2 separate regions of the Homo sapiens genome follow, and region 1 is linked to region 2. Evidence: fine-mapped expression QTL. A gene starts in region 2. The other region holds a variant in brackets. All regions are shown on one strand. Distances are between the middles of the regions.

Region 1 (5,364 bases), 120 kb before region 2:
GAAATCCATTTAAATCTCCCTTGGGTCACTGAATGACAAACATTTATCTTTAGTAATTTGGCTTCCTGCCTCCTGGTTGGTGTAAAGAGTGCTGTCAGGGCCCTGGCCCAGGCCCATCAGTCTGGATGGGTTTGTAAGGAGTCACAACAAGGCTGCTTTTGTGTCAACAGCAACAACAATGTACTGGGCCCATTTCTGAACCAGATGATGGCTTCTAGGCGCCAGGCTCAATCGTGGCCCTGCCAGCCTTGGCTTTCAGCAGCGTGAGCCAGTTAACTGCTACTGCCAACTCAGGCCCTCAGTGTTTAGAGTCCTGCAAGTGCCTTTGGGCTGAATCACCAAGTCTACATAGTGCTGCCGGGAAGTCACCCTGACACAACATCCCCTCCCTGAGCAGGATAGGCCCCTCCTCTGTGGGAGCATGTGGGGAGTGCTCCAAAGACACAGCCCTCATTCCTATCCAGAGCTCAATCGGACTCATATATGCTGAGAGATTCACCACTGAATTCTGGCCCTTGGGATGATTTCGGTTCTACAATGGGCTCACTCATGTTTACACTGGGAAGAATGCAATGTTTAGTGCATTTTGGAAAATGGAGTCTTCAAAAGGGACCAACCCAGTAACAGTGTTCCTAGCAAAGGGCTCTGTATAGACTAGGCACTCAATTCATGCTTTTACTGACTTTCAGACTCCTGATCCCAAATATTTTTTTTTTCTTTTCTTTTCTTTTTTTTTTTTTTGAGACAGTCTCATTCTGTCGCCCAGGTTGGAGTACAGTGGTGCGATCTTGGCTCACTGCAACCTTCACCTCCCTGGTTCAAGCAATTCTCCTGCCTCAGACTCCCGAGTGGCTGGAATTACAGGTGTCCGCCACCACGCTGGCTAATTTTGGTGTTTTGTTTTTTTTTTTTCAGTAGAGATGGAGTTTCACCATGTTGGCCAGGCTGGTTTCAAACCCCTGGCCTCAAGTGATCCACCCGCCTCGGCCTCCCAAAGTCCAAACATTTCATTCTAACATGTAACAGGAAGCTCTAGACCTTCCCAGAATGATAATCTGTGGGGCAAGTGTGGTGGAAAGGGCTGCATCAGGCTGCAGCACACGACACCACCGCTGGCACTGATCATCTCACCCTCTTCCATCAGACACATTACTGAGCACCAACCGTGCACCAGTGACTCAGTGACCATGCCAGCCCCTAGTGTACAGCAGGAAAAAGGACCAAGTCCCTGTCCTCATGAGACATACCATCTTCTGGGGAAATAGTAAATAAATGAGTCATTATCCACGTGCTGCAGGTCAGGATCTGGAAAGTGCAGGGACACACAACAGGGAAGCAGCCTGCTCTGTTGGTAATCAGGCTTCCCAACAGGTTTGCTTGGGAGAGAGGTCATATTTTTCTTCCCTAGTTAGGAAACTCATGACTGGCGAGATGGGGTCTTGCTCTGTTGCCCAGGCTGGAATGCAGTGGCGTAACCTTGGTTCACTACAGCCTCGACCTCCTAGGCCCAAACGATCCTCCCATCTCAGCCTCTCGAGTGGTTGGGACTATAGGCATGCGCCACTACGCCTGGCTAATTTTATTTTTCATAGAGATGAGGTCTCACTGTTGCCCAGGCTGGTCTCAAACTCCTAGACTCAAGTGATCCTCCTGCCTTGGCCTCCCAAAATGCTGGGATTATAGCATGAGCCACGGCGCCCAGCCAAAACCCACCATTTGATTATTCATAAAGTAGCTCTTGTGAATTTAAGTCAATCCGCTTCCAACTGACAGCTATGTATATTAAAAAAACATTTTTGAGCCTACAAAACTGAGGGCCAGACCCTCTAGTCTTATCTAGGTGCTAATTTCCCAACTTGTATTGAATTTATACCTTTTCCTATACACTTCAGAACCTTCTTTTTTTCCCCCTGAATTATTTCCATGGCCAAGAATACTGATGGTCTTCCCTATTGTACTAAAATAACCTCAAGGCTAAATCTTCTCATTTAGGCTGGCTACTAGGTCCTACACGCAACAGGCACTTCCATTCACTCACTCCTTCACCAAGTGTTCACTGAATCCTAGAATGTGCCAGTTCTGTGGCAGGGGCTGGCGAATGAAACAGACACAGGTCCTCACCATCATGGACACCAAAGAGATGAGCAAGGATGCACATGCCACCCGGCATGGTGAGGGCCAGTAAGAATGAAGTACAGGGTGCTATGGGACGTGTGTGTGTGTGTGTGTGTGTGTGTGTGTGTGTGTGTGTGTGT[GTGTGTC/C]AGGAAAGACCTCTCAGAGGAAATATCTAACGACAAGACCTCAAGGATAATTAGGAATCAGCCAGGCTGCAGGTGGACTATGTGGGGCAGGGTGGGTGTGAAAAAGTAGAGCTACAGGAAACACTGAAAAGGGAGCAGCCACTTTTACTAGACTCCCACTGTGGAGTGCCCTCGATGCCAAGAAGCAGCCCAAGGCTCCTGTGCTGTCCTCGGTGTGGTGCCAGCATCATGGCCTCTGCTTGTCCTGCTCTGTGGGGAGCAGCCTGCCTTCTCCCTTACAATGGCCTTTGAGTACCTCCTGCTGAGCAGGGGTGGAAGGCTGCTCTGCAGAGCACAGCAAGAATGCAGCTGATTCTCTCAAGGCCAACATGAACCAATAAATGACTAAGGATGACACTTCGAACTTGCTTTAAAAGAATCTGGAAGTTTAAAGAAAACCCTGAGCTTTCAATGGGTTTCTTTCTGCACACTCTTCCCTCAAAATTCTCTCCATGACATCAAACATCAGAGACCCAAAACTAAGCAATGCGGTGCAACTGTGAAGGACTTCGGAGAAATGAGAATGTCTGAGATGCGGAAAACATTAAACCAAACAAAGGCCAAGGAGAGGAAAAAGAGAGGGGAAGCTTCTCTCTGGGACCCATGGAAACCAGGTGAGTGCACATCCTCCCTTTGATAGTGACTTTTTAAAACAGAGTGGCCACACTGCATTCCACTGACCAAAGACAGAAAAGGATACTGCTTCCGTTGACATGAGTGGGAAAGGGGTGACTTTAAAAAGAAGAACGACATGATCTCGAGTGGGGGATCAAAAGTTCATCTGCGGCTCTTACAGTTGTTACACAGACTAAAACACTTCTGCTAAGAAGGCCTTTCATTTTTATTTATTTATTTTTTAATCTTTGAGACAGGGACTCGCTTTGTCACCCAGGCTAGAGTGCAGTGGCACGATCATGGCTCACTACAGCCTCGACCTCCAGGACTCAAACGATCCTCCCACCTCAGTCTCCTGAGAAACTGGGACCATAGGCATGTGCTACCATGTCTGGCTAATTTTTAAATTTTTTTGTAGAGACGAGGTCTTTCCCTGTTGTCCAGGCTGGTCTTGAGCTGCTGGGCTCAAGCAATCCTCCTGCCTTGGCCTCCCAAAGTGCTGGGATTACAGGCATTGAGCCACTACACCCGGCCTAAGAAGGCCTTTCCATGGTAAACCTAGGATAATTTTAAGCTTCTAAAGAATTGCAGGTCTCAGTCAGGTGCAGTGGCTCACGCCTATAATCCCAGCACTTTGGGAGGCTAAGACAGGAGGACAGCTTGAGCCTAGGAGTTTGAGACCAGCCTGGTCAACATAGTGAAACCATGTCTCCACAAAAAATTTAAAAATTAGCCAGGCATGTGGCAGGCACCTGTAGTCCCAGCTACTCAGGAGGCTAAGGTGGGAGGATTGCTTGAGCCCAGGAGATCAAGGCTGCAGTGAGCCATGATCATACCACTGCACTCCAGCCTGGGCAGCAGAGCGAGATCCTGTCTCAAGAAAATAAAAGAGAGGGCCGGGTGCGGTAGCTCATGCCTGTAATCCTAGCACTTTGGGAGGCCAAGGCACGTGGATCACGAGGTCAGGAGTTCAAGACCAGCCTGGCCAAGATGGTGAAACCCTGTCTCTACTAAAAATACAAAAATTAGCCGGGCGTGGTGGTGGGCACCTGTAATCCCAACTACTCGGGAGGCTGAGGCAGAGAACTGCTTGAACCTGGGAGGCAGAGGTTGCAGTGAGCCGAGAAAACGCCACTGCACTCCAGCCTGGGCGACAGAGTGAGACTCTGTCTCATAAATAAATAAATAAATCAGAGAGACTTGTAGGTTTCTTTAGTGGAATACCATCTAATTAAAACTCTCCCAAGAAGGTGGAGAGTACTGTAAAAACACAGTGCAGCTGATATGCACGAGATTTATAATCATTAGTCCTCCAATTAAGTGAAAAAAAAATTAGGGCAAGAAGCTGTAGGTACCACCACCCCTGAGAAAACTCAGAACTAGGGTGACGCCTCAGCCATGCAGGCTAACACGCCTGCCAAGGTGGCACTTTTTACAGGCTGACACAAACACAGGAATCTAACTGGGGCTTGACTGACCCTGGACCTCAAAGGCAGACTAGTCAGATGCTCAGGGTGACTGCTCTTCCATGGAGTCCGACACCACACACTGCACAGAAGGCAAAGCCAGAAGAAATAAAACCAGACCTTGTTCCTCCTTCCTCAAAGTGTCAGGGCCCGTATGAGCAACTGTGTGGTTTTCTCTTGAGCTTTCTGAGAACTAAACTGAAGCACTTTCTACATTTACAGGTGAAAGGAAAACAAAGTATGCTGGGCTGAAGAGGAACAGAAGCAAATTAATCCCAAGCTGCCTCTTTTTTTTTTTTTTTAAATTCATTTTTGAGATGCATTCTTGCTCTGCTGCCCAGGCTGGAGTGCAGTGGTGCGATCTCAGCTTACTGCAACCTCTGTCTCCTAGGTTCAAGTGATTCTCCCACCTCAGACTCTCAAGTAGCTGGGATCACAGGCCCATGCCACCAGCCCAGCTAGTTTTTGTATTTTTAGTAGAGACGAGGTTTTACCATGTTGGCCAGGCTGGTCTCGAACTCCTGACCTCAGGTCATCCGCCTGCCTCGACCTCCCAAAGTGCTGGGATTACAGGCGTGAGCCACTGCGCCCAGCCTCAATCTGCCTCTTTCCCAAGTGCCACTATCTGTGAAGAATGTAGCAAGGTTACTCATTTGCAAATTCCTCAGGAAAAATAAAATCAAACCAAAACTCCAAAATGCCATCTGAAAACAGAGCCAAGATACATGGCAGCCACCACACAACACCTCATCAGGGATTTCATTCAGAGGTGAGATGTGTGGCTCTCTGCATCTTTCCTGCTCCTCAGCGAGAAACTGGTCACTGGGACCCTACCCTGTGGCCCAAAGCCTTGCTGGAGGGCTTAGCCAGTGGGCCTGGGACCTGGCCGATGAGGGCAGCCAAACACACACGGTGATGGGGGAATCAGCACCCCTCTTGTCCACCTGGGCAGTGCTCTGCTCTCCCTCACCCGTGGGGATGCA
Region 2 (5,364 bases):
AGGATGCCAGGGGCTGCTGGGTAGGCTATTTACCTAAAATCACCGGGTAGGATTGGCACGCAAGCCGTTTTAGTTTTTGTTCTTAATGAGACAGGGTCTTGCTCTGTCGCCCAGGCTGGAGTGCAGTGGCGCAATCTCAGCTTATTGCAGCCTCGACCTCCCAGGCTCAAGCGATCCTCCCGCCTCAGCCTCCTGAGTAGCTGGGACTACAGGTAAAAGCCACAACGCCAGGATCTCCCTATGCTGCCCAGGCTTGTTCGGAACTCCTGAGCTCAAGCGATCCTCGGGCCTCAACCTCCCAGAGTGCTGGGATTACAGACGTGAGCCACCGCGCCCGGCTGGCACTCAGGTCTTTAATTTCAGAATCTTCAACAGTCCAGCTTTAAACAATGTTGGGGGGCAGTATGGCGGATGGGGGGGTTGTGACTGTCTTCAGGTGTTAAGCTGGGAGATGCCCCTCAAGGCAGCACTCTCTCCCCAATCAGCCAAGCCCTCATCTCCCGGAAAGAGGGGCGCTGAGAGCAGGGGATGGGGGTGGAGGGTCGGGTAGGTGGTTAAGGGGTGCTTCTTTGGGGGCCTGGGCGGAGCCAGGGCGGGGCTTGGCGAGCCCAGGGGAGGCGCCAAGCCGGTGGCCCCAGCTCACAGGCCAAGATGGCTGTTAATTAAAGTGCTGGCACCAGCTCCTCTCTGCAAAGTTTGAAGCCGTTATTTTCCACTCCAGCGAAGCGGGGAGAATCCGGCTGGGCTGACGGAGACGCCACACCGCGCCAGGGGAGCAGGAGCTTTTTCGGAGCGGGAGGCGGGGCGCCGTGTGGCTGCGAGCGCGCCTCTTGGATGCCCCGGCCGGCGCGGGGGTGGGTGGGCGCTCCCGCCCCATCCTTGGCCCCGGGCGGCCAGCCGCGGTGTGCCCGGAGGGCTCTGCGAGGGCTGTGGGTGGCGGGCGAGCCCCAGCGGCGTAGCAGAGGAGGGGCCCCCGAGCGAGCGTACTAGGGAGAAGGGGGTCCGTGCAAATCCCAGGCTGACGACCGCGCACGCGCCCCTCGGGTCACCAGCCCTGTCGCTCTTGGTGGGGCACACCGAGGAGACCGCCGTGGGGAACCGGGGACCGGATTGCCTGACAGCCGAGCGCTGAAGACTACTCTTCCTGAGCCTAGGGAGGTCTGGCTGCCCTGAGCCCCCTACCCCTGGGCTTTGGGCAGTAAACGGTACCTAGAGACTCTATCGCGCTGAGGTTGGAAGAGCCTGGAGCCAGGCTACGAGTTTGAGTCCCGGCTCTCCCACTTATTAGTTGTGTGACTTTAAGCAAATCTCTTAACTTCCCAGAGCCTCAGTTCTCCATCTGTAAAATTAAAATAATCTTGGATTTTACTTCTTTGGACTGATGTGAAGATCAAGGGTGATCATGTATGTAAAACATTCAACACAGGGCCTAGCACAGAGTAAACCCTGAATAAATGCTACTTATTGAAAATTTTTTAGCTCCCTCCTTGGTGGTGGTGGGGTCACTCCAACCTGGCCTCAGCCATTAGTGCTTGGAGGGTCCTCTTTCACAGCCCCCTCGTTGGATGTCCCTGTGTCCTTCTACTCCCAGCCCTGGATGAGGTGAGCGACCTCAACCTTGGGTAGGGAAGGCCAGGGAATCATTTTGCCCATGGTGAAGGGTCAACAGGGAGAGTGTGAGCCGGCGGGGGGTAGCTCTCGGGAGAGGAGAGGCTGGGATGTCATTCTTTAGCAGCCGGCCAGTCGCCTCCGAATGGCTGAATCCTCCCCGGTGGGCCGGATAAAGGAGGGCGAAGGAGGAGCGGTGGAGCAGCCCGACCTGGGCCTCAGATAATGTGACAAATATTTTGATGGAAGCAGACACGTTTCGGTTTATGCAACCTAAACACTTTGCTGCACTTGAGGAAGAGGAGAGCCTCCCACAGCCTGATGGGGAGAAGAGTTAGGGGGCGGCGGAGGAGGCTGGGGAGTGAGGGAGGAGGAGCTGAGGGGCTGGATGAGATCCACCCCTCATCCTGGAGGCTGGAAAAGGGGGTTACCCCTCAGGGACGTATTTGCATCTGTCAGCATGGAGAAATAACGTGGGGGTGCCCACCTTTTTAGGATCCCCTTTTCTCCCTGGTCTAGAGGCAGAAGTAAAGGGATTGAGCAGAGGGAGATGGAAGAAAAGGGCCCAGGAAAAAGCAGCCTGGCCACAGTTCGGTGAGGAAGGGGCAGAGGCGAGGAGGGGTTGGAAGCTCCTGCCCCACCTCGGGGGAGACGGGTCCCGGAACAGTCAGATCCAGAAAGGAGGAGGCGGCTGCCGTCTGGCTCCGCTGGGCCCCCGGACAGGCATTCATCCGATATCTGGATCTCCCAGACGGGTGGTCTGCGAGGCCTGAGTGCCAAATGGTCCCCTCCGTATCCTCTTCTTCGCTTCATAACCCCCTTTCTCATCCTACCTTCCAGCTCCCCGCTCCGTCCTCCCCTCAATCGCTCTTTGTCCCCTGCAGACCTGGGCGCTATCCCCTCGCTTCCGCCCCCTGCGGGTCTTGGCCCGTCGCGACCCCAGTCCCTCTGTTTTCCTGGTGACCGACCCTCGAAGCCTCTCCTCTCCCGATCCCCTCGGAGCTCTCTAGCTCTCCCTGTGGCCCTCTCTCCCTTTCGCATTTTGGTCCCTACTCTCCCCTTCCCTTGGAGCGCCTCTCGGGTCTCTCGGACCCCGGCCCCCACCCCATTTCCGAATCTCGGTCTCCGCGTACTCAGTCTCTTCTTTCCTCTCCCTGCTCCCGCCCGGGGTCTCCGCGGCCCCGCCCCCTTATGCCCCGCCCACCTCGAGGCGCCCGCGGCCCAATTAGGCGCCGGCCCCGCCCGCAGCCCCACCCCTAGAGAGCCCAGAGCCGCGCGGAGCTGGCGGGGCGGGGCCCGGCCGAGGGGGCGGTGGCCCGGCTCAAGGAGGCGGGAGGAGTCAGGCGGGAGGCTGCAGGCGGGAGGCGGGAGGCGGGAGGCGGCGGCCGCGGCGCTCAGTCCGGCAGCGCAGCAGGAGGGAGGCGCGAGGCAGGAGCCGGCGGCTGGGCTCCGCAGCGCAGCCAGCGCAGCGCGGCGCCCCGGGCCCGGCCCCATGCCCGCAGCCCCGCCGGACCGTCCTTGAGCGCGGGCGCCTAGCCCGCGCCCCCTGCCCGCCGGCACCATTGCCCCGACGGCGCGGCCGGGCGGCCCGGCGCTCCCCAGGCTCCGCGCGGGCCGAAAGACGCTGCTAGCGGCCGCCGCGGGTGTGGTGATGCTGCTGGTGCTGGTGGTGCTCATCCCCGTGCTGGTGAGCTCGGGCGGCCCGGAAGGCCACTATGAGATGCTGGGCACCTGCCGCATGGTGTGCGACCCCTACCCCGCGCGGGGCCCCGGCGCCGGCGCGCGGACCGACGGCGGCGACGCCCTGAGCGAGCAGAGCGGCGCGCCCCCGCCTTCCACGCTGGTGCAGGGCCCCCAGGGGAAGCCGGGCCGCACCGGCAAGCCCGGCCCTCCGGGGCCTCCCGGGGACCCAGGTCCTCCCGGCCCTGTGGGGCCGCCGGGGGAGAAGGGTGAGCCAGGCAAGCCGGGCCCTCCGGGGCTGCCGGGCGCGGGGGGCAGCGGCGCCATCAGCACTGCCACCTACACCACGGTGCCGCGCGTGGCCTTCTACGCCGGCCTCAAGAACCCCCACGAGGGTTACGAGGTACTCAAGTTTGACGACGTGGTCACCAACCTAGGCAACAACTACGACGCGGCCAGCGGCAAGTTTACGTGCAACATTCCCGGCACCTACTTTTTCACCTACCATGTCCTCATGCGCGGCGGCGACGGCACCAGTATGTGGGCAGACCTCTGCAAGAATGGCCAGGTGGGCCAGGCGGGGGCATGGGGCTGGGCTGGGCCCAGGGCACCCAGGGAGCCCGGGGCAAATGGGTACCTGATCGGAGTTGGCGGGGGCGCCAGGCGGACGCAGGTGGAGATCCCACCCCACAGCGGCCCCGCTTGGTCATCACGTGTGGGGATGGTCGGAGCCAGCGGACATCGCCGATCCTCAGTTCCTGGGTTCCCGCTCCAAGACAGACGCTGCTGGGCACCGTCTGGAACGCTACTGGAAATGCGGGAAATGAACCCAACTAGTCAGAGCGCAGGGCTCCCAGGTGCACGGACTTGCCCTTGGGGGCTTGCCCCTTGGGAAGTGGATTCGGGCCGACAGCAGTGGGCGATAAGGGGAGGGCAAGGATGGGCTCTGGCGTATGGAACAGGGAGAAGCAGCATCCGCGCCCGCGGGCGCCTAGGCGCGTGGCCATGGGCGCGAGCGGAGAAGGCTGGCTGCAGGAAATGTTTGGGGCACAAAGGCAAAGGGAGCCCGGTGCTTACAGCCCTGGCTGCAGTGCCTCCCCTGCCCTGGAGAAGGGACCATTGGGCGAATCTGACACCCTTTGCAAAATCCGGGAGTTGGGGAGCTGTTTCCCACTGTAGCAGAGCTTCCCCAAAAAGAAGGCAGTCTGGGGGGCGGGGGAGTTTTTCCTCCTGAGGCGGGGAGGGGGTGGGGGGTGGGGGGTGGTGGAAGAGATGGAAACTCCCCCTCCTCTTGGTCTCCCAGCTCCAGCCCCTCCTGACTCTGGAGTGTGTGGGGTCCTCTCCATTCTCCGTCCCCATCTCAGACGCTGCAGCTGGAAAGCACTGAGTGTGTCGGGGACTCTGGTACCGGGACTCGCATGTGCGTGTAGCTCTCCTTGGAATGGCCGACCCCAGGACCAGCCTCCACCCAGCCCCGCCCTGGGGTGACAATTTTAGCCAGCTCTCTTGATACCACCTCCCTTCCCAGTGCTCTCACTCGTGGTGGCCTGTGACCTGGGGGTGTGGTCAGGCTGAGCATTCTCTTCGAAGAAGGGGACCACTGGTCAGAACTAAAGCTGAGCTAGTGGAAGTTGAGAAGGAATCTCTCACGATTAAGATACAAGACCTTGTTGGAACCCTTCCCACAGCAGCACTGCCCTGAGGCTCTGCCAGCCTGCGGGTCTGCAAGTCTTAGGGGCAGAGACAGGGGCAGGCAGGGAAAGTGAGCAGATAGCCTGCCAGGTGCTTATAAGTCAGCCCTTCTTCTCTTTCCTCTGCCTGGCTGCTGCCCCGCCAACACCTTTTCTCTGGTTTCTGCCTCTCCCCTGCCTCTTTCTTCTATTTTGCTGTTTCTTGTCCATCTCTCTCCTGTGTCTGCCTTTTCCATCTCTCCCTGGGTTTCTGGCCTCTCCTCCCCGGATCTAACCCCACTCTTCTCTATTCCTTGTATGTCTCTCTTTCCCACGTGTGTCTATCAGACATCCCCGTGTCTCTCCTCTTTGTCCTTGGTTCCTGACCAAATGGGAGGCCCCAGTA

Direction of the effects. Positions count from the first base shown, and alleles are read on the strand shown. Sizes are in standard deviations (SD) of each study's normalised expression.
As copies of C replace GTGTGTC in region 1, the expression in transverse colon of the gene that starts at base 3,005 in region 2 goes down (large effect, 1.0 SD a copy in CEDAR).

The links. PIP is the estimated chance that this variant, and not a neighbour inherited with it, causes the effect. A credible set is the group of variants that fine-mapping cannot tell apart.
Region 1: its variant is the best candidate, but not a certain one, in a credible set for the expression of C1QL1 in transverse colon (CEDAR, PIP 0.56).

The regions. Positions count from the first base shown.
Region 1 is chr17:45,088,085-45,093,448 of GRCh38, reverse strand. The region is part of intron 3 of NMT1 (N-myristoyltransferase 1); the gene reads right to left. Among named protein-coding and RNA genes, the nearest start is that of MIR6784, 24 kb to the left of the region's middle. RefSeq lists an enhancer at 2,224-2,725. The variant GTGTGTC/C (reference allele first, on the strand shown) is at 2,256.
Region 2 is chr17:44,965,944-44,971,307 of GRCh38, reverse strand. It overlaps C1QL1 (complement C1q like 1), which reads left to right and starts at 3,005. Exons shown (of 2, transcript NM_006688.5): 1 at 3,005-3,856. The coding sequence starts at 3,260. It also overlaps the pseudogene LOC112268183. RefSeq lists silencers at 809-878, 2,715-3,074.